5 separate regions of the Homo sapiens genome follow, and all the other regions are reported to be linked to region 2. Evidence: microRNA targets listed by miRTarBase, many of them from high-throughput screens and not tested one by one. Region 2 holds a microRNA gene; each other region holds the end of a gene's coding sequence.

The links. The annotated mature microRNA hsa-miR-559 reads UAAAGUAAAUAUGCACCAAAA and lies in region 2 at 2,430-2,450, shown strand. An mRNA with a match to its seed (bases 2 to 7 or 8) in the 3' UTR can be bound and repressed. Matches are read on the target gene's strand: a 7mer-m8 pairs with bases 2 to 8, a 7mer-A1 pairs with bases 2 to 7 and ends in A, and an 8mer does both.
Region 1: the mRNA of MTMR6 is a reported target of hsa-miR-559. Seed matches in the 3' UTR shown: 7mer-m8 at 2,839-2,845 and 7mer-m8 at 3,560-3,566.
Region 3: the mRNA of MTA2 is a reported target of hsa-miR-559. The part of its 3' UTR that is shown has no 7-base or 8-base seed match.
Region 4: miRTarBase lists TM6SF1 as a target of hsa-miR-559. Seed matches in the 3' UTR shown: 7mer-m8 at 1,021-1,027.
Region 5: the mRNA of LEPROT is a reported target of hsa-miR-559. Seed matches in the 3' UTR shown: 7mer-A1 at 1,764-1,770.

The regions. Positions count from the first base shown.
Region 1 is chr13:25,245,908-25,250,112 of GRCh38, reverse strand. It overlaps MTMR6 (myotubularin related protein 6), which reads left to right. Exons shown (of 14, transcript NM_004685.5): 14 at 621-3,891. The coding sequence ends at 881. Among named protein-coding and RNA genes, the nearest start is that of MTMR6, 39 kb to the left of the region's middle.
Region 2 is chr2:47,375,261-47,379,465 of GRCh38, forward strand. MIR559 (microRNA 559) reads left to right here and starts at 2,415; the gene lies at 2,415-2,510. EPCAM (epithelial cell adhesion molecule) reads left to right here. Exons shown (of 9, transcript NM_002354.3): 4 at 1-39; 5 at 1,754-1,817; 6 at 3,693-3,794.
Region 3 is chr11:62,590,068-62,594,272 of GRCh38, reverse strand. MTA2 (metastasis associated 1 family member 2) reads left to right here. Exons shown (of 18, transcript NM_004739.4): 17 at 1-14; 18 at 233-1,059. The coding sequence ends at 398. TUT1 (terminal uridylyl transferase 1, U6 snRNA-specific) reads left to right here and starts at 2,750. Exons shown (of 9, transcript NM_022830.3): 1 at 2,750-2,869. The coding sequence starts at 2,788. RefSeq lists enhancers at 2,599-2,828, 2,245-2,940.
Region 4 is chr15:83,136,184-83,140,183 of GRCh38, forward strand. TM6SF1 (transmembrane 6 superfamily member 1) reads left to right here. Exons shown (of 10, transcript NM_023003.5): 10 at 298-1,225. The coding sequence ends at 489. It overlaps HDGFL3 (HDGF like 3), which reads right to left. Exons shown (of 6, transcript NM_016073.4): 6 at 1-3,092. The coding sequence ends at 3,087. Among named protein-coding and RNA genes, the nearest start is that of TM6SF1, 31 kb to the left of the region's middle.
Region 5 is chr1:65,431,495-65,435,494 of GRCh38, reverse strand. It overlaps LEPROT (leptin receptor overlapping transcript), which reads right to left. Exons shown (of 4, transcript NM_017526.5): 4 at 1-3,692. The coding sequence ends at 3,576. All of the region lies in intron 2 of LEPR (leptin receptor), which reads right to left. Among named protein-coding and RNA genes, the nearest start is that of LEPROT, 13 kb to the right of the region's middle.

The DNA of each region.
Region 1 (4,205 bases), not on the chromosome of region 2:
ATGACTGCTTGAGTAAATTGTAGAAGGATATGGTCAAGAGAGGCAAGTCCAGGATAATAGGTAATACAAGATTATCGGGACAGTCCAAGAATTTGGAGAGCATGATACTCTGCCACAGGACACTTTAAAAATCTTCTGTTAAAAAAGTAAAGTTCTGTTGTGTTTAAAGTCTGTTATTTTTACCTAACAAACCACTGTAGGAAAACCATGTAAGAAAAACTCTATATAGTCAGTGAGCCCTTTAGCTACACAAGTTTGTTTGTTGTGTTTTCAGGGTGAATGTTTCATACACATTTCTTTTATTATAAATGTTTACCTGTTATGCTTTCTAGGTAATATATGTCCATTTTAAGTGTGGAAGCCTAGTGATCGCCTGCAGTCAAGTCTTGCTGGATTGTTTGTTTAATAAATATAAAAACTAACAATTTTCCACAGCAAAAAATTGTACACAATTAGGATTTTCAACCATGTCATATGCATTAAATGTTTCTACTTTTTTGAGATTTAGTTTTGCATTATACATACAGAGAACATATTTTGCAAAAGCATGTTTTCTTTTTTCATGTAACATATTGTGGCTTATGCAATTAGTAATTTTTTCAAATTTGTGTTTGTTCTAGAAAATTAAACAACGCAAAAATAAGCAAACAGATGGCATCCTCACCAAGGAATTGTTACATTCAGTTCATCCTGAATCACCTAACCTCAAAACTTCCCTGTGTTTTAAAGAGCAGACTCTGCTACCCGTAAATGATGCTCTTCGAACTATAGAGGGCAGCAGCCCGGCAGATAATCGTTATAGTGAATATGCAGAAGAGTTTTCTAAATCAGAACCTGCTGTGGTCAGCTTAGAGTATGGTGTGGCAAGAATGACTTGTTAGACTCATAGAGTTTTTTCTGCAATGATTGCAGTACAAGAAAAGGATTATTGTGAGGATGGTCTGTAAGCATAACCAAAAGGAATTTGTCTAATAACAATTTTAGGGTTTAACAGTAGGCTAATAGTTGAAGGAAGGATAATAACTACCCTTGTGAGAGAAATAAGTCATTTTAATTGCATTTCCAGCAAGGAATGACATTCAGTTCTGTAAGAAATGAGTGGTATTTGATGTATTTACTCAAAACACAATTTGCACTGTACACTAGTGAATTGACGTTTATGATTTATGTTAATTCAGCCAAACATAAATAACCTTCCTTAAGTACAATTTAACTTCAAGAAAACAAAATTTGACAACATAGTTTCTTAATAAATGATATGGCATGTACTTTCAATTATGTAGCTTTGTAACTATGAATATTTACATATTTTGCCTTTTAGTGATATTTAATGTTAAAGTGCCATGAAAAATATTTCTAAGAAAGCCTTAAATTCCCAGTGGATTCTTTACCCTTAAGTTTTACAGCCTACAACAAGATTTTTTGTTTTGTTTTTCTTCTGGTCAGCCTTGTTTTGTTTGTAAAGAATTGTGCTCTCATTACTGCTGGGGGTGCATGCTACAATACTTCTATATAAACACTTGTAGAAGTACACTGTTCACGTTTAGCCTGCCCCACTTTTGTATTCAAAATTAATGAAACTGAAGGTTTATTCTGATCATAATTTGTTTAGTGCTACATTTGATAATTTATTATTTACAGCTTAGAATATTGATTTCTTGAATACGTATAAGCACATTTGACTGTCTTTTATATATGGATTACTGCATTCCATTGATTCTTATTTTGTGGTTGGCTTTATTTCTTTCACAACTGTGTAAGTTTAAAGAGCTAAAGCTCTAAAACTGTTCTGAGAAACAATGAATAGTACATGTATATGTATATTTTTAAACTGCCTTATTGCTCAATGAGTTGCTGTTCCTGGAGTATCTAACTTTCAGTTTACTCAAAAACTTTTGGGTAAATAAAAAAGGGAAGTACAGATAGTTTAGGTTGTGCATGGTTGCATGAATTTTGAAGTCATTTCTATGTGGAGCATTATTTTTCTTCTTGTTAAATATAGAAAAAAAAAGAGATTCTAGTACAAAGTTACTGTTTAACAAAAGCAACATAAACTCTGGGAAAGATTTCATTTTGCCATGTTATATTTACTGTTTATTCTGTGTACTAGTACATATCTTTAAATTACCAAAAAACAAGAAACAAAACATAAAAACCCCAAAACTATCACTTGGAATTAGCAATATCACCCAACTGGCTTTAAAATTGAAAATTTAAATAACATGGTGGCATGAAGTACAATTCGAGTATTAGGCAATTTGCATAGTGTTCCTCATGCTACTTTCTGTTACACCTCTATTATATTAGTTTTGAATATAAACATCTTTTTCAGACCAAAAAAAACTTTATTGTATGAGAGCTTATCTTATCCTGTTTATTTTTCCAATGCTTTTCTGTAATACATTATGTAATTTAAAAAATATTCCTTTTTAAACAGCAACAGAAATGCACTATAAAATATAGTATGTGATTAACCAATCCTGCTTCCATATTTAAGCACTGGGAATGGAAACTTAATCTCTGTGACTACAAAGGGAAGTTTTTGTGCCTTGGTGTTCCAGTCACTGATTGTGGTTTTAGAATCTTCTGTGGCTGACTTCTTGTATTCAACTCTGGTTTATTATCTTAATCTTCAACTTCAGACATATATTTGTGTGTTTATATGCTCACAGGTGGACTGAGAAATCAGTTACATCTTAAGTGACCTACAGGGTATATGTTGGCAAAAGCAGACTGTGTATATGTCTTATAAAGTTGAATTTATGTTCAGTGTGTTTGGAAGTGTATAGCATGTAAATTACTTCATATATGATTTAAAGGTAATTAAATGTTCACATTTTACTTTGAATGTTTTTCTTCTGGATAAAACAAATGGAATCAAGTTGTAGTTGTTTTTTTTTTCTTCTCACCTAGGCAAGTAGACTTGCCCATTACATTAACATAACAGCATAAGGTTTGAGGAGTTTATTTTCCAAAAGTTTGTTGATAAATAATACCTGTTTCATACAAAAATAATTTCCAGAATATTTAAAATAGGTATAGTGGGCTAAAAGGCCCATCAGATGTAGGTAATAATGTCATTAAGTTTTCATTTTGTTCCTGTCACTTGCTTATATTACAATCACTATTTTTTTGTGCCCTTGCCAACTTGATGGAAGGCAGGGTCCATTGAGTACAAACATTCGAGGTGAAATGTCTCTCCAAAGGCAGATCTGGATGTAAATATGAGGAAGAAAATAACTGGCTGACAAGAGGATAATTTTATTGAGGGTGTTTTGAAAAGGTCAGCTAGGCTAGAAGTAGCTCAGGGAATCTTGAGTAAAGATGAAGGGAACTCTTTTAAAACAAATTCAATTTATTTGGTCGGGTAGCAGAGCAGGGAGGTGGTGTCAGTCAAGCCTGTTTTGAAACATTTTTTGCAGAAGGTCAGCTTTAAAATATTGAAAAATTTCCAGTTGACATGCTAAGTTGGATTAAATGCTGATCATTTATAAAACTATATAGTTGCTGCAAAAGTAATTGGGGCTTTTGCCATTGAAAGTGATGACAAAAACCGCAATTACTTTTGCACCAACCTAATACTACAGTTGCAGACTTTTATTAGTGACGCTGATCTTCATTAGTCAAGTTTTAGTTATTTTGTTGGCTTTTCCATGTAGAATTCCAAGTGACATTAACATACTTTGATTAATTAAAGAAAATTTGGAGACTGTTTAAGATATATGTCTAGATATCAATGTAAACTATAAGCTTTAGGAACTTACATCTAGAAGAAAGCCTGGAATCTAGAATAATTATCTCAAAAAAAAGTATATATACCATTGTACTTGATATAAGAAAATGTAAACATGAAACCTTGACATTTTAATAAACAGTATTTGTGCTACTCTAGTTATTTCTAGGAAAGTAAAATATCCATTTAAATGGCAACTTTTATAAAATAGTGGCCTGCATAACTGAAAGGAACTTTCAGAAGCTAGTAGTAGACTCTATAGCCCTGGTGTTCAGTTTCTGATTCAGTAGTTAGGGGTTGGGACTCTGGAGTTAAAATCATTTGCATACCAATAAATTGTTTGCACTTAGCAATATTTTGGATATTGTGATGCAAATGGTTGGGGAATCATACTTTGAGAAACACTGCTGTAAACCACCCATCATGGTCAGTAAACATCTTGTTTGTTCTTAAAGGGATGCCGAATTATTCT
Region 2 (4,205 bases):
AGCAAGAGAAAAACCTTATGATAGTAAAAGTTTGCGGACGTAAGTGCAATTAAATGCATCATATTCTTGCACAGTTGGTGGCTCAAATCTTCCATCCTACACCATTAGAAAAAGCAAGTCTAAATGCTTTTTTATATTTCTGAAAAATAAAGTTACTTGAAATAGAGTTGCAAGAATAGCACAGAGATTCTGGGAATACACTTCACTCAGATTCACCAATTAACATTTTGGCACATTTGCTTTTTATATGTGTATGTGTGGATGAATATGTGTGTGTGCTTTACATCAGTGTATCTATGCATGTATAAATATTTTTCCCAGAAGCACATGAGAGCAAGTTGTAGACATCAGGCCCCTTTACCCCTAAGTACTTCAGTGTATGTTTTCCTAAGAACAAAAGGCATTCTTTTATATAAACCACTATACAACGATCAAATTTAGGAAAAATTTTTTTTTTTTTTTTTAGACGGAGTCTCGCTCTGTCACCCAGGCTGGCGTGCAGTGGCGTGATCTCAGCTCACTGCAACCTGCGCCTGCCGGTTTCAAGCGATTCTCCTGCCTCAGCCTTCCAAGTAGCTGGGACTACAGGTGCCTGCCACTACGCCCTGCTAATTTTTGTAGTTTTAGTAGAAACAGGGTTTCACCATATTGGCCAGGCTGGTCTCGAACTCCTGAACTTGTGATCCTCCCGCCTCTGCCTCCCAAAGTGCTGCAATTACAGGTGTGAGCTTCCGCGCCCGGCCAGGAAATTTAACGTTATATCACGTTGTGCCCATTTTCCCAATATTGTCCTTTGTAGTAATTTTTCCCCTCTGATTCAGGACCCAGTCCAAGATCCATGTATCACATTTAGTTGTCATGACTCTTTAGTCTCTTAATATCGAACAGTTTCTTGGCCTTTCTTTGTCTTCCATGAACTTGCTATTTTTAAAGAGCATGGGCAAGTCATTATATATAATGTCCCTCAAATTTTGATTTGTCTGATATTTCCTCCTTTTTTTTTTTTTTTTTTGAGTTGGAGTTTTCCCTTTTGTTGCCCAGGCTGGAGTGCAATGGTGCAATCACGGCTCACCGCAACCTCTGCTTCCCGGATTCAAGCGATTCTCCTGCCTCAGCCTCCTGAGTAGCTGGGATTACAGGCGTGCGCCACCATGCCTGGCTAATTTTTTTTGTATTTTTAGTAGACACGGGGTTTCTCCACGTTGGTCAGGCTGGTCTCGAACTCCCAACCTCAGGTGATCTGCCCACCTCAGCATCCCAAAGTGCTGGGATTACAGGCATGAGCCACCTCACCCGAGCCTTGATGTTCCCTCTTAACTAAAAGCAGGTTATGCATTTTTGACAGGAAAACTACTTAAGCGATCTTGTGTCCTTTATAATACTTCACATTAGGAGTTGCATGATGTCAGCTTGTCCCTTTACTAGTAAAGTAAACTTTGGTTAAAGTGGTATCCACCAGGTTTTTCCACTGTGAAGTTACCATTCTCCCTTTGTAATCCATAAATAATCTATGGGCAGATACTTGGATACTAAGTAAATGTTCTTTTTCTAATTAAACTGGTACCCAGCAGTTTGAATATCAATGGATGATTCCAGCCTGAATCAATTATTATTATGATAGTTGCAAAATGGCAGAAAAATTTTAACTTTAATGACAGTTTTAGACCCTGAGCTGTCTGCTTAAAGAGTAGTGCTTCTTACTGTTGTGTGGTACAAACATTTTTTTTTAATACAGATTTTAAATTCTTTACAGTGCACTTCAGAAGGAGATCACAACGCGTTATCAACTGGATCCAAAATTTATCACGAGTATTTTGGTATGATTTTTTAATAAGTGAGCTTTAGCAGACAGTTGGTGAGACAGTATGTTTTGAGTATAAGGACAGCCAGTGATTTAAGTGGTGGTTAAATGCACTTACTGGAGCAACAGTTTCGGATCTGGGTACTTAATGTGAATTTCCTGTTACTGTTTTTTTTTGTTTGTTTGTTTCTTTAAGACAGACTATTGCTCTCTTCCCCAGGCTGGAGTGTCATGGCAAGATCTCGGCTCAATGTAACCTCTGCTTCCAAGGTTCAAGCAATTCTCATGCCTCAGCCTCCCGAGGAGCTGGGACTACAGGCACATGTCACCATGCCCAGCTAATTTTTGTATTTTTAGTGTCGGCGGGGTTTTGCTATGTTGGCCAGGCTGGTCTCGAACTCCTGGCCTCAAGTGATCTGTCTGCCTCAGCCTCTCAAAGTGTTGGGATTACAGGTGTGAGCCACCACGCCCGGCCCATTGTTTTTGGTTATCGTTGTTTTCCTTCCATAGCCTTTGAAAAGCCTAGTTTTACTCCTAAAGAAAACGTAGTATCTCTTAGTATCCCTAAAACATTTGAGTTTTCTTATCCTGGAGAACCTGTCCCTGTGGATGAGCTCCAGTAACATCTTAAAGTAAATATGCACCAAAATTACTTTTGGTAAATACAGTTTTGGTGCATATTTACTTTAGGATGTTACTGGAGCTCCCATCTTCTCTGCTTTAAGGAACTAGTCCTTAACTAGTTAGCCCTTACTTAACTCTTTAAACTCTGGTTTAAAAAATAAAAAGAAGCTTGAATAGTGTGACGGAACTCTTTAAAGGTAGTATGAATTTATTCAAGAGTCTTTAGAAAGAATGTACTTTTTTTACTCTTTAAAAACAAAATGATGGCCGGGCACGGTGGCTCACGCCTGTAATCCCAGCACTTTGGGAGGCCGAGGCAGGTGGATCACAAGATCAGGAGATCGAGACCATCGTGGCTAACACAGTGAAACCCTGTCTCTACTAAAAACATACAAAATAGCCGAATGTGGTGGTGGGCACCTGTAGTCCCAGCTACTCGGGAGGCTTGAGGCAGGAGTATGGCGTGAACCTGAGAGGCGGAGCTTGCAGTCAGCTGAGATTGTGCCACTGCACTCCAGCCTGGGCGACACAGCAAGACTCCGTCTCAAAAACAAAACAAAAAAACAACATGGAAAATGCATGCTGCGTTTTACCTTGCATTTCTTTTTCTTTTCTTTTTTTTTTTTTTTTTTTGAGACGGAGTTTCGCTCTTGTTGCCCAGGCTGGAGTGCAATGGCGCCATCTCGGCTCACCACGACTTTTGCCTCCCAGGTTCAAGCGATTCTCCTGCCTCAGCTTCCCTGGTAGCTGGGATTACAGGCAATGTGTCACCACGCCTGGCTAATTTTGTATTTTTAGTAGAGATGGGGTTTCTCCATGTTGGTCAGGCTGGTCTTGAACTCCGGACCTCAGGTGATCCGCCCACCTCAGCCTCCCAAAGTGCTGGGATTACAGGCATGAGCCACTGCACCCGGCCTTACCTTTCATTTCTTTAGTAATTTAGTTTTAAAGTAGTTCTAATCCAAATAAAATACTTTCATATCTTATTTAAAAATCTTTTCAATATAAGAAAATCCTCTTAGGAAAAATTGTACATTGTAATTATGTTTGGTTGCATGGCTGTCTTATTTCCCTTTGATAGATTTAGAGACCTCCCAAAGATTTCTTGATTAGTGATAAACTTAGTTATCCACTAATGGAAAGGAACAGTGATGCATGTAGATTATAGAAAATCAAACACTGAATATTCTGATTCTCAATTAATGTTATTTTCAAATGATTTTGATTATATTAGTATTAATTTGTATTATTCAATTTTTTTCCCCAGTATGAGAATAATGTTATCACTATTGATCTGGTTCAAAATTCTTCTCAAAAAACTCAGAATGATGTGGACATAGCTGATGTGGCTTATTATTTTGAAAAAGATGTGAGTATCATCTTCTTTATTCCTGTGTTCAGGAATGTAGTCTATCATGCCTCAATGAATTAAATATATTTCATCACCTTTTTATCCACTTACAGATCAACCAAATGGTTCGCTGCTGCCGTTAATTTTGTCCTCCCTGTCACTCACATGCATCTTGCTTGTTTGTATATTTATGCCTCTTATCAAATTGTTCTGCCTAAAATATCTCCCCTCTTTCTTATAATTCTTATTTATTATCTACTTGGTGGTTACTTAGTTTGTGCATATATGCTCCCCTATGATATTTATAATTTACACAAATAAAAGTCTGTTAAAAAAGACTGTAACTGATATGATTAAAATATTTTGTTGAAACTTTAATATATTATAGTGAGGTATTTTCTGCTGAAATATGAGGTTTGCTTCAAAATA
Region 3 (4,205 bases), not on the chromosome of region 2:
ACAAAGGATACCAGGTAAGGCGTCTACCATGGGAGGGGCTGAGAGGGACAGTCCAGGCTGGTGAGTGTGGGGAGTAGGAGTATCAGAGCAAGAGCTCCAGGAAAGTTGTGGATGCAGGGTGGGGATGCCAGAAAAGAATGGGCCAGAAGGCATAATTGCAGTGTGGGGCTTCACCTGGAGGTCTTAATGTTCTCTAAGCCTTTTCTGTTTCCCACTTGCTCTTTCTGGCCAGGGCCCTACGGAAGGCTCTGACCCATCTGGAAATGCGGCGAGCTGCTCGCCGACCCAACTTGCCCCTGAAGGTGAAGCCAACGCTGATTGCAGTGCGGCCCCCTGTCCCTCTACCTGCACCCTCACATCCTGCCAGCACCAATGAGCCTATTGTCCTGGAGGACTGAGCACCTGTGGGGAAGGGAGGTGGGCTGAGAGGTAGAGGGTGGATGCCCAGGGCACCCAAACCTCCCTTCCCTTTCGTGTCGAAGGGAGTGAGGAGTGAATTAAGGAAGAGAGCAAGTGAGTGTGTGTCCCTGGAGGGGTTGGGCGCCCTCTGGTGTTACCACCTCGAGACTTGTCTCATGCCTCCATGCTTGCCGATGGAGGACAGACTGCAGGAACTTGGCCCATGTGGGAACCTAGCCTGTTTTGGGGGGTAGGACCCACAGATGTCTTGGACAGTTTTGGGGGGAGGGTTTTTTAATTTTTTAAAAATTTTGCCTCCCTTTGTGAAAGGGGATGGGGAGGGGAAGAGTAAACAGATAACAGGTGGTGGTACCTGGTTGGGGGAGGGGGGCGTGCACTGCCATGTCTTTTTTTTTTTTTTTTTTTTTTTTTTTCCTAATTGGGGGTTTCTCTTTCTGTCCGGTGTCCGGACTTTCCTAATTGGAGTTTGAGGCCCCTAAGCTGGCATCAACCCCAGGCCACGCTCGCTCTTTCCTTCCCTCCCCTCCCCCTCTGCCTTTTGTACGCCAGTTCTCAGAAATAAAGATCTTTTGTCCGTTTTTTTAACCTCGGATTCTGTAATTGGTTCTTATAGTAACAAATAAAAAGCTGTTTTCTTCAGCTTCTCCTGGCTCAGCTGTTCTTTGCCATGGGTGTGTGTTGTGTGTGTGTTGGGGGTGTCTTTGAGAGGGAAAATAAAGGACAAAGGACAACAAAGGAGGTACAGATGGTTCTTGCCCTGGGAACAGCTTTATGAGATAGGCAGCCTGGACCCAGGCGGCTTGCTCCAGCTAGGCTTCTTGTGGGACCCAAACTGCTCCCCAGCTCCCAGTGGTGCTGGAGCTCAAGAACCATCTTGGCCCAGATTCATTCAAAGGAGTTGAGATGAGCTTTCTGGATGACTGGTGGCCTCCATAGGAAAGGGGAATGGGGGTGTTTCTTCCTCTGTTTCCCACCTCTTACTCCCCTCTCCCTTTTGTTTAAGGAATTCTGGAAGTTGCTAGCAGCCAGGGTAACATGTATACCCCCTTGGGGGTGGTGGTGGGGTTATAGGAGGATCCCCTCACCTAGCTGTGTGGTGTATTTGGCAGACGAGAATTCTACCACTGAACCACCCTAGCACCTCTGGGTGTATGTGTACAGCCTGCTGCTTCAGGATCCTCAAGGCCAGTCTCGATGATATCCCGATCCACTGTAGCACTGTTTCCTGCCTTAAAGGTTTGGGACACTGAGATTAGATGCCTGAGCTGGGCCCATTAGAAGGAACACCTTAGGATAGAGAACAAGAAGTTCAGCCTGCTGTGTGCTCCTTGGGCACTTCCTTTAGAGATGGGAAACGGCCTCAACAGTTGTGACTTGTTCAAGGTCAAAGACCTTGGTGTCTGCCTTAGGTCCACTGCTCTTTGCGCCATTCAAAGCTGTGGGCTGATAACCACAGCACAAGCTGCTGAGCCCATCTGATAGTTCTCTCCACCTCGTTATGGTCCCTGTCCCTAGGGCATCCCCAGCTCCCCGTAGTCCCTCCCTGTCCTGAGCCTACACCTCGGCGGCGTTGGGATGAACTGACAATTATACCAGGAGGGGGTTGACAGCATTCGCCCCCTCCAGTGTCTAAACTCAGTTACTGGCACTCGGTTTTGTCTTGTCGCACTGCTCTGAGGTGCGCCAGTAGCTCTGGCGCCTCCGGCGTACACCACGCAGCCCACTACTGCGGAAGGAATGGGCCTGGCTCCAGGACCTCGTGGAGTCCGGAAGGTGCCCGGTGGTGGCAGAGCTCCCCAACCAGGGCTAGAAGCCGTCGCAGAACACCCGTTTTGCGGGAGGACAGGGGGCGGAGGGAGGGAGTAACAGCCCTGAAAAGGTTGGAAGTCCAGGGACAGCCCTGGGCTCCGTGGGGCAAAGAATTGGAAGCCGCCGATCCTCCGCCTTTATTCGTCGGGTAAATAAGGGTCGAGGGTACAGACGCACGGGTGTCTACTGCGGGGTGAAGGAGCTGCCGCAAGATGCCACCCGGCGCCGGCCTTTGTGGCTGCTGTCATGAATATTCACGATGCTTTGGGCCAATCAACGTCTGAACAGCTTAAAGCACACCAATCGGCTTACCGCATGCAGATAAGCATCGTAACGCGCCGCTTTTCCTGAAACGGGCGGGGACTGGACAGCGGCTAGAAACGGAACCCAGAGTCGAAGGAGCTTGGTTTCCGGAGGAGTGTGTCCGCGCAATTGAACGACTTTATGTCACTTCCTATCGGATCGGCGGAAGTTGCTTCCGAGCGCGTTGAGCTTTGGCGAAGTGGGTTCCGGTGGTGGCAGAGGTGCTTGTGTTTTTGTCGGTACAGGAGAGTCGCTATGGCGGCGGTGGATTCGGATGTCGAATCGCTGCCGCGTGGGGGGTTCCGCTGCTGCCTCTGCCACGTTACTACAGCCAACCGTAAGCGGTGGCTAGTGAGGGACCCGGGGGTGGTTGCGGGCTTTCGTCTTTTGATCCTGGCGAAAGTTAGGGTTATAGGTAGTCAGTCGTTCTTGTCAAGTTGATTGGTAGGGTCTCTCACCTCCGTTTTTCTCTGCAAGTCCGAGGGGATTTGGAGAGTCGGGAAAGTTCCACCACATTACACTCCTCAGTATATGAAATCTCCACAACGCAAGTTTAATTGTTTTATTACTTCTTTAACCATCATCTATTGGACATATGCTCTGTGCCTGGTATTCTGCTGATCTTTAGGGTGGGGGAGGGGGGTTCAGAGATGAAGGAGCTCACCGTCTAGAGAATGAGAAAGTTTCAATGCTTTATAGATATGTTCGGAGAACTGTGGGACCACAGAGAATTAGTAACTAAATCAGAGAAGCCCTACAGAGGACCTACTCAAAGGAGGGGATGGATGAAATAGGTGTGGCATGAATGACTAGACCATAAGGTACCAGTGAGGAAGAGACAGAAGATGGGTTTGGAAAAATAGACAAGGTTCTTGTATGACACACAAGGGGTTCACTGTAACTTCAAATTCCACTTTTTTTTTTTTTTTGAGACAAGGTCTTGCTCTGTCACCCAGGCTGCAGTGCGGTGGTGTGATCTTGGCTCACTGCAGCCTCAACCTCCCGGGCTCAAACCATACCCCTGGCTAGCCTCCCAAGTAGTTGAGTCTACAGGTGTGCACCACCATACTTGGCTAATTTCTTTTTTCTTTTTTTTTTTTTTTTGAGACAGAGTCTCACTCTGTCACCCAGGCTGGAGTGCAGTGGCACGATCTTGGCTCACTGCAAGCTCCACCTCCTGGGTTCACCCCATTCTCCTGCCTCAGCCTCCCGTGTAGCCGGGACTACAGGCACCCGCCACCACGCCCGGCTAATTTTTTGTATTTTTTAGTAGAGACGAGGTTTCACCATGTTAGTCAGGATGGTCTCGATCTCCTGACCTCGTGACCCGCCCGCCTCGGCCTCCCAAAGTGCCGGGATTACAGGCCTGAGCCACCGCGCCCGGCCTACTTGGCAAATTTTTTAGTTTTTTGTAGAGATGGGTTTTCACCATGTTGCCTAGGCTGGTCTCCAATTCCTGGCCTCAAGCGATCTTCCCATCTTGGCCTCCCAAAGTGCTGGGATTACAGGCGTGAGCCAATGTGCCCAGCCCTACTTTTGAAGTCTGGAATCACAGTGTTCCCTAAACAGGGTTTACTTCCATTCTTCCTTTTCACTGTGAATGGCACTATCACTGTTCATCCAGTAAGCCAAGCCAGAAACCTAGGAGTCTTCTTTGGCCCCACATTTACTTT
Region 4 (4,000 bases), not on the chromosome of region 2:
GTTCGGTAAGGGGCACTTGATGGTTAAAAAACACAACTGGCATGATAAAACTACACTAAATAATATCTACTTTATTTGAACAGTCATATCAAGAATGGCCCTAAATTTAATCAAGGACTAAATTTAATGAAAGACTCTGACATTAAAGACTCTGGATTGTTTGAAGGTATTTTGCCTGCAGGTGAGACTGGTTTTGAGGGCACAGAAACGTAGCCTGAATGAACCATTCAGAACTCATCATGCATCCAACTGAACACGTTTCATGCTTACTCAATTTTTTTTTTTTAAATGCAACAGGCTCAGTTTTCTCACATTGGTGCATCTCTTCATGCTAGAACTGCTTATGTCTACAGAGTCCCTGAAGAAGCAAAAATCCTTTTTTTAGCATTAAACATAGCATATGGAGTTCTTCCTCAGCTCTTGGCCTATCGTTGTATCTACAAACCAGAGTTCTTCATAAAAACAAAGGCAGAAGAAAAAGTGGAATAAAAATATTACTTCATGTTCCTCCTTTCTAAATTACTAACTTTTGTTATACTGGTACTGATATTTTGTCCCATTTCACTCTCTTCTCATACGTGAGTACTTAAGAATATGTACATTCTTGCTCTGCACTGTATGTGTGAGCTATATGGTATTGTGTAAATTTTTTTTGAAGGAAAATGGAAATTCTTGAGAAACAGTTTGTTTAAAGAAATATATTCAAAATCATTTGTGAATAAACTTGATCATCCATCTCAATATTGTTTGACATATAAAATAATTATAAGTGTAAAAAATTACAATTTAGTGCCAACAGTAGTGAGCATGAAATGAAACTATTCAAAAGAGAATATGGCCTGTGCATATTAAAAAATTCAAAACAGTGAATGCAGACTGGAGGAGTAACTTTTGCAAATAAGATGAATATGCTTCATTATTAAACTCAATATAAAAGGCAAATCATCAGAATATTTTTAAATGTTGTTTGAAAAATGTTTTCCCAAGGAAAGTTTATTATTTGCTGCTGTTTCAAGAAAATTACTTTTACTAAATTTTTTTGTGTGAATTTAAACAGCTAAATAGGGATCAGTAACTTTATCTCTATCCTTAATGAACATTTGTTTTATTGGTGGCTGGAAATATTTCTATTGTATTTCTGTGTATATTTTTAATAAAATTATTTTTGGCCTCTTATAAAGACAAATCTTATTAAATTTGAAACATTTCATATATACACATAAAACGCTTTTAAAGAAAATTTGTGAGTTGTATATTCCAATTCAAAATGCCATCTACATTCCCCTTATGTTTCAGTGTGAGCAATGAAGAGGTCTTTTGATGAATTAAATTTCATTAATTAAAAAATACATTCAAATATTCAAAATTAAAAAGGACCTTTTAAGGAAGAAGTATTAGATCGACATCCCTACTATCTTTTTATGAACTTTTCATGTTTGGGATTGTATGTTGAGTATACTAGAGAAAATCAGTATTCACTAAATGAAAGAAACACACCAAAAATACAAACAGCCACCTCCTCACTGTGCCCTGGAATGATAAATGGACTGGTGCTTTCATACCCTTAGCTGCCATCATCACCATCATCATTATTAACGGCCCTAGGCTTTTAGGTCTGCTCACATTTTCTCATGTTTTTATTAGCTCTCATCAAGAAAACCAAAAGAAAATGGGATACAAATCAATGCATGGATAATATCAAATTACAAAATCTAGGGTCCACTGGGCTGGTAAATATGTAAGTGTAAGCAAATCATGTAGTCATCTCCCCATCATCCCCTACAGTGTTTTCAAATAATCTAAAACCCAGAGAGTGTTTAAAAAAAAAAAAAGAAAGAAAAAGAAAAACCCTCACCTGCACTTGATTCTATTGTCAGCTTGCTGTGAACAATTTTTGCTTTAATATATGAATTACATTAATACCTCACGTTACATATATGAAGCCAAATTACACTAACTTAGTTTGCTTACAACCTCAAATCTTACTCCCAGTACACATTCCAATAAATTTATTCTGTAAAAACAATACATTTTTTTGTTTTTGATTTTTTTACAGTAAACTTTTCAACTACAAACCGTGAATACGCGAAAGATGTTCCAAGGACAAGCATTAACAGGATTGATAAAACCCAAACTGACTAAATGTGTTCTCACAATATAAGCTGGCATAAAAATAAATAAAATTCTCTATTATCACAATAGCAACAATAATGTACACATAATAATGGTTTAAGGATGAATATTAACTATTCTAATTGTAGTTCCAAAAGAAAACAGTTTATTTTAAAAGTCTACATTTAAAAGTCAATGCTTTGTCTGGTTTCCCATAGGGCTGTTGCTGATTCCAGCTTTAAAATGTAAAGTATCCACCTTGAGTGCTTAGCTCAAAATTGTATTGGCACTGGGAAAAAAATAAATCATTGCCTTTATTTTGGAGTAACACAAAAAGACTCACTAACTTCACATATAGAAACTTAGTTTGTGTACATAACAATATGAATTTTGAGAAGTATAAGCTGTCAACTAGCTATTTCTAATACGGAATAGATATTTTACAATATGGTTAAACTTTACACATGGCCTCAAAACTGAAGGACAATTTTAATTTCGTCTTCAATATACCAACGTTATGTATTTAGGAATTAATTCCTGGGTTCTGTCACAGAGAGGAAATTCCATTCTTAAGCATTATGTTGAGTGGTCATCTAAAAAATGTTAATTTATATTTAACTGAGTGTTTGATGATGGTGGGGTCAAGGCAGGAAAACGATGATCATAACTGCCTTGATAAAAGGATCCTAGACATGTATAAGTCTGCGCAAAAATCTTGATAATCCTTAGTGGTTAAGGGCAACTTCATGCAACCAAATAACATGAAATTAAATCAGTAACTTTTAAAAAAGGCTAAAATGTCTTTTCCCCCCGAAACACAACAGAGAGGAATATGAATAATGTACATACAAACTGGGGTTCTGTCAATGACAACAAGGACTATGTGTTGGTTCATATCAAATCCAAGAATATTAGACAACCAAACATATAACCTTCTTGTGGTTTCTCTTAATATGCAGCATTCATTATGGTAGTTAGGTCTGTAAAAAAAAAAAAAAGAAAGAAAACAAGCCTTTAGATGATTTAGGATACTAACAATGAGAGCTATCCACACCTAGATAGTACATAATTGGGTTTTCTGAAATTTTAATATGCACTGCAGCATTAACAATACTTACTGAGCAAGAGCAGCTTCTGTGGCTTTGCTTTAGACCTGTCAGTGCAAAAAGTTAAAGGAAATCCTAGGGTATTTTTAGTGTCCCATAGAAAAAAATTATAAACCTTGTCTACTGTCTGTTAGGACAGAGTGCAGCAGTGCACATTCTACAATTCTAGGACTATGTTTATTGCTGGAATACATCATCAGTGGAGAAATTGATATAATCTATCTTTGTGAGGACATTCTTCAGAAAGAAAGGTAAGCTGTGTAAAATTTAAAAAGCACTTAGAGTGTGCACCAATTAATCTTCAGAATATTTATAACTTAATTACTTGTGACACATAGCTCAAACAAATGTAGAAGTTAATCATGATGTACAAAGTCTCTGACTTCTTGCTTTTAAAAAAAACATAAAGAATAAGAGGAAGCCTAGATTTCTTTTAAAATTTAGATGGCATCCGTGTGACAAACAGAAAATAAAACATTTGTTTCATAAAAGAATTATGTTTCTATTTGGGTCCCACTTTAAATTGTGTCTGGTTCTATTTCCCCAAAAGGATGCTATTTTTTCCCCCTCATCATTAACCCAAATATATTAAACCCCCTAGTAATACCCTCATGGGATGAATGAAAGAGGGAACTCAGCCCTCAAATATTTTTTCTGAAAACAGCCTGCTTCCACTCTTAATTTCACTAAATGAATGAACATGTTTGTAAGCACATGTGCACACTGATGGGTATGTTCTCATTCAGACAGCCCAACATGTATACTAAATGGTATATATTATA
Region 5 (4,000 bases), not on the chromosome of region 2:
TTGGGAGGCTGAGGCAGGAGAATGGCGTGAACCCGGGAGGCGGAGCTTGCAGTGAGCCAAGATCGCACCACTGCACTCCAGCCTGGGCAACAGAGCGAGACTCTGCCTCAAAAAAAAAAAAAAAAAAAGAAAAGAAAAGGCACATTTTGTGACACCACCTAAGCATTTCCCTGAGAACATAAAGAAGGTTATTAACATAATGAACTATTTCAGCCTTGAAAACAGTATTCATTGAGGAGATACCTCAGAGGTAAGGACTTCCTTAGGACAGTAAGAAAAATCTATGAGTTCTTAAGTGGAAGAAAAGAAACAACTATGAAAAGCAGGACCAGCTCAGAACTCCTCCTGAGGAAGAGATGAGGTATGACAGGATTTTCCCTGTCCCAAAATATTGCTATCCTTCTATAAGCTGCTGGAATCTTTCTTCATTCCGTTCTCCCATTCTCTGTGAATGAGAATCAGTGGGTTATGAGGCATTCTCTAAAAACGCAGGTGCAGCAGTCATGGGAATGGCAGTCGGCCCAATGCAGGTGTCAAAAGGAATTTCAGATGTGGAGAAGATAATCACAAGGCATTCTTTCTGTGATGAAGTGTGATCTGCTTTCTTCTCAGCACCACATGACATCAGCTGTACTTAGAGAACTGACTAATGGGAGGAGAAGGGTGGGTGACTCTGGAATATGAAGAACCTCAGGAGGGAGGATGGAGCCCAGTGGGAAGGTTCTCAGTTGGGAGAGGTGAACAAAACTCCCAGGAGTGTACCTGGATCTCAAGGGCATTAGGAGGTGAAAATGAGTGGAAAAATTAAAAGGAGAAAGACCTTGTTCTTAGGAAAAGGGGTGGAAAGTTGCACTGTCCTTCCTCCAAACTACTCACACTACCCTGTCTCAGAGACCCAAAACTCAGGCAGGCACCTTCAGTATCACAGGTTAGGTATATTAGAGTTGAACCTGTTGAGGGAGGCTTGGCCTGGGAACTCAATCACCAATTCATAGTATTGTTTCTGTGGAAAAGTGTCTCAAAGTCTGCTTGTAACCCACTTGTTTGAAACATGATAAAGAATCCCTTCATAAGATTATTTACTTGTGGCCAATTTTGGAAGTGCAATCTCAGTTTTCGACTATAGTCACTATGCTCTGAATCTCCAAATATATTGTACAATATATAAAAAAAGAGCCTTTTATAAGGAAAAAAATGTCCAACATTTGTGTCACCATGATCAAACTTTTGTATTATATATTCAGATATAGCAATATTTCCTATTAATATTTACTGTTTAAATGATATTTAGGCACTGCAGAATAGCTCTCTTTTCAGACATAGAGCAAATCTAATAATCTATCACTTCAAATACTCTATATGCAAGTACTTTATATCAATCTAAAGATACAATCAAGAGGTAATGCTTTAAGGCTACATATGAAGGCTACCTTGGTTATTGAAAATGTGTATAAGCAACAAAAACACTTTTGCAAAATGTAGTAGAAATGAATCATTATTGCCATCTTAGAAAGAAAAGCTATTGCACACCAACTAGACATTCAAGATGGTATCCTAAAACTTATTGCTACTGTTCTGTTAGGACAGATTATTGCTCAAAACTGCCCATTTTAAAACATCAAGAAATTCTCTCATTTTTGTTATCTTTTCAGGCAAGGCAACATCACAAAAAAATTTTAAAGTTAAACTTTTAAAGTTAAAAGTGAAATTTATTACAATACAATAAATGCAAGTGTCATTATTAAAAATGCCGGTTAAAATTATAAAGTATCTAAATAATTTTTCTAATATAAATATTGGAAATGACAACTTTAACAATTCTATATGTACACAGGACACTGAAAACATAAAATCATGAACAAGGCCAAAAAATAACGTTGCACATTAACCCTTTAGTTATTACTTTCTATTTTCCAGTCCCAGCATCATACCTGCTAATTACTCAGATCACAAGCCTCAAGGATTAAGTGTTTTGAATGTATTTCAGTTTCATACTTTAACAATGCTTAAAGACTATTGGTTGTATTCTGATCAAATGGTTCTCCTTCCCATATTTCCCTTTCTCAATAGATCTTAGACAAAAAGGTGAGCAGGGAAAACTGTGATTACAGGATCCAACATGACAGGTATACCCAATGATTCATTTAAGGGTGGCATAAAGTTATATAGAAAAGACCTACAGGACGGAAGACAAGTACATCAACACGTAGTGAAATTAAGCAGTTCACCCACTGCGTGCTTACATGGCTCCTATATCTCTTCGGGAAGAAGCCAGAGCCGTAGAGAAGTCAGGGCAAACCAGAACTGTTGAGGAGTAGGGGTGGGGGGCAGAGGGAAGGAGCTGGGGAGAAGTGCCAGATCATAAAGGAAATGTAAAAGAGTTACCTATCTGTTCTCCCCCTCCTGCTAACGCAGGGGCTGGCTCGAGCCCAGCCTCCCTGCCCGCATCTCAGTGGAGCTCTTCCCCCAGCATTGTCTTTCAGATGAAAAGATACATCTGTTCCCCACTGAGATGTTTTTTTGGGGGAGAGAGTATGTTTTGTTTTTTATTTTGATTATATATTGACAAATTATTGTATATTTTTATAGGGTACAATACGGTTTTATGATTTTTGAATATAAGGTGGAATGATTACACTAATTAACATATGATCTCAAATATTTAACTTTTTTATGAGAACATTAGAAATTTACTCTCTTAGCAATATTGAAATATACATTCAATTATTCCTATATTTAGCATGCTGTGCAAGTGATCTTTAAAAAAAAATCACACTTATTCCTCCTAACTGAGGCTTTGTACCCTTTGACTGTCTCCCAATTCTGAGAACACTTTTCATAAATTTGAGGAACTGCCTAAATATTATAGGCTTGAACATCTGAACTTGTCCTCAGCATGAAAGCAGGTGAGACTTTTTTTTTTTTTTTAAACAAATGAGCAGGTAACACCCAGAGAGGTTAAGTGGTTTAGCCACTGGAAAGATAAGGAAGTTGGGTGTGATGTTTACTTCTCTATGATGATGCTTCTCAAACTTTCATGTGCATACAACTCCTTTGGATCTCATCAAAATGTCCTGGGTCCAGAGTGGGGCTTCAGATTCTGCATTTCTAATAAGGCTCTAGGAAATGTTGAGGCTCTTGGTCTGTGGGCCACACTTTTAATAGCATGGACTACAACACAAAGAGGGATCCACCCCGGCCTTCCTGGGTCATGAGAGGCCTGCTTCAGCGTTATCTGCCTCTCCAAGCACATCCCCAAGCAAAAGGTTTCGATGCACTGCATAAGGTGGCAGCTGCCTACAAGACTGCGTTAATATATTTTCTGAGAGCACCGTGACTACATGAACAGCCAAACAAGTAACATAATTTGAGTAACATAATCTAAATTTGACAGGTCTATTTGCTGAGAATAAAACTCATCTCCTACTTATGAAGTCTTTCTTAAAGTGAACATGATATATAAAGGTATTAAAAAACCCAGCATATTAAATTTCATAGTAAAATGCCGCATGTGCACATGTATACAGATAGTATGAGTTCTAAGAAATTCAATGCACTGTAATCAGAATAAAGTGCTACCACTGCTCCCAGCTAAAATCATCTCCTCTTCCAAATATAAGGAAAAACCCTTGAATTGTAAGGAAAATGACTGCATTGCCTGCCAACACAAGGCCGCAGGCTCCCCATTTGATCTGAAAGACAAGAAAAGAAGGATTAAATCCTTACTTCCTTCATATTGTACTCTTTGCAATCCCTATTATTTTCTGCATTAGAAACATCCAATGAAATGTTACACAAAGCTGCTAAAAGGCTTAATAATGTAACAGGAGACAATGAACTGTTCAGTAATGAGTCTAATTACTTCTGTGATGCTTGTTAATTAAGTCTGGTATCATCCTTAACATGTTCCCAATTAGACATATTTCTCTACTTGTTTTTAATTGACAATGATTGCCTTAAGTAAAACTCAAGTGGTAAGATTATAAATAGTGCAATTACA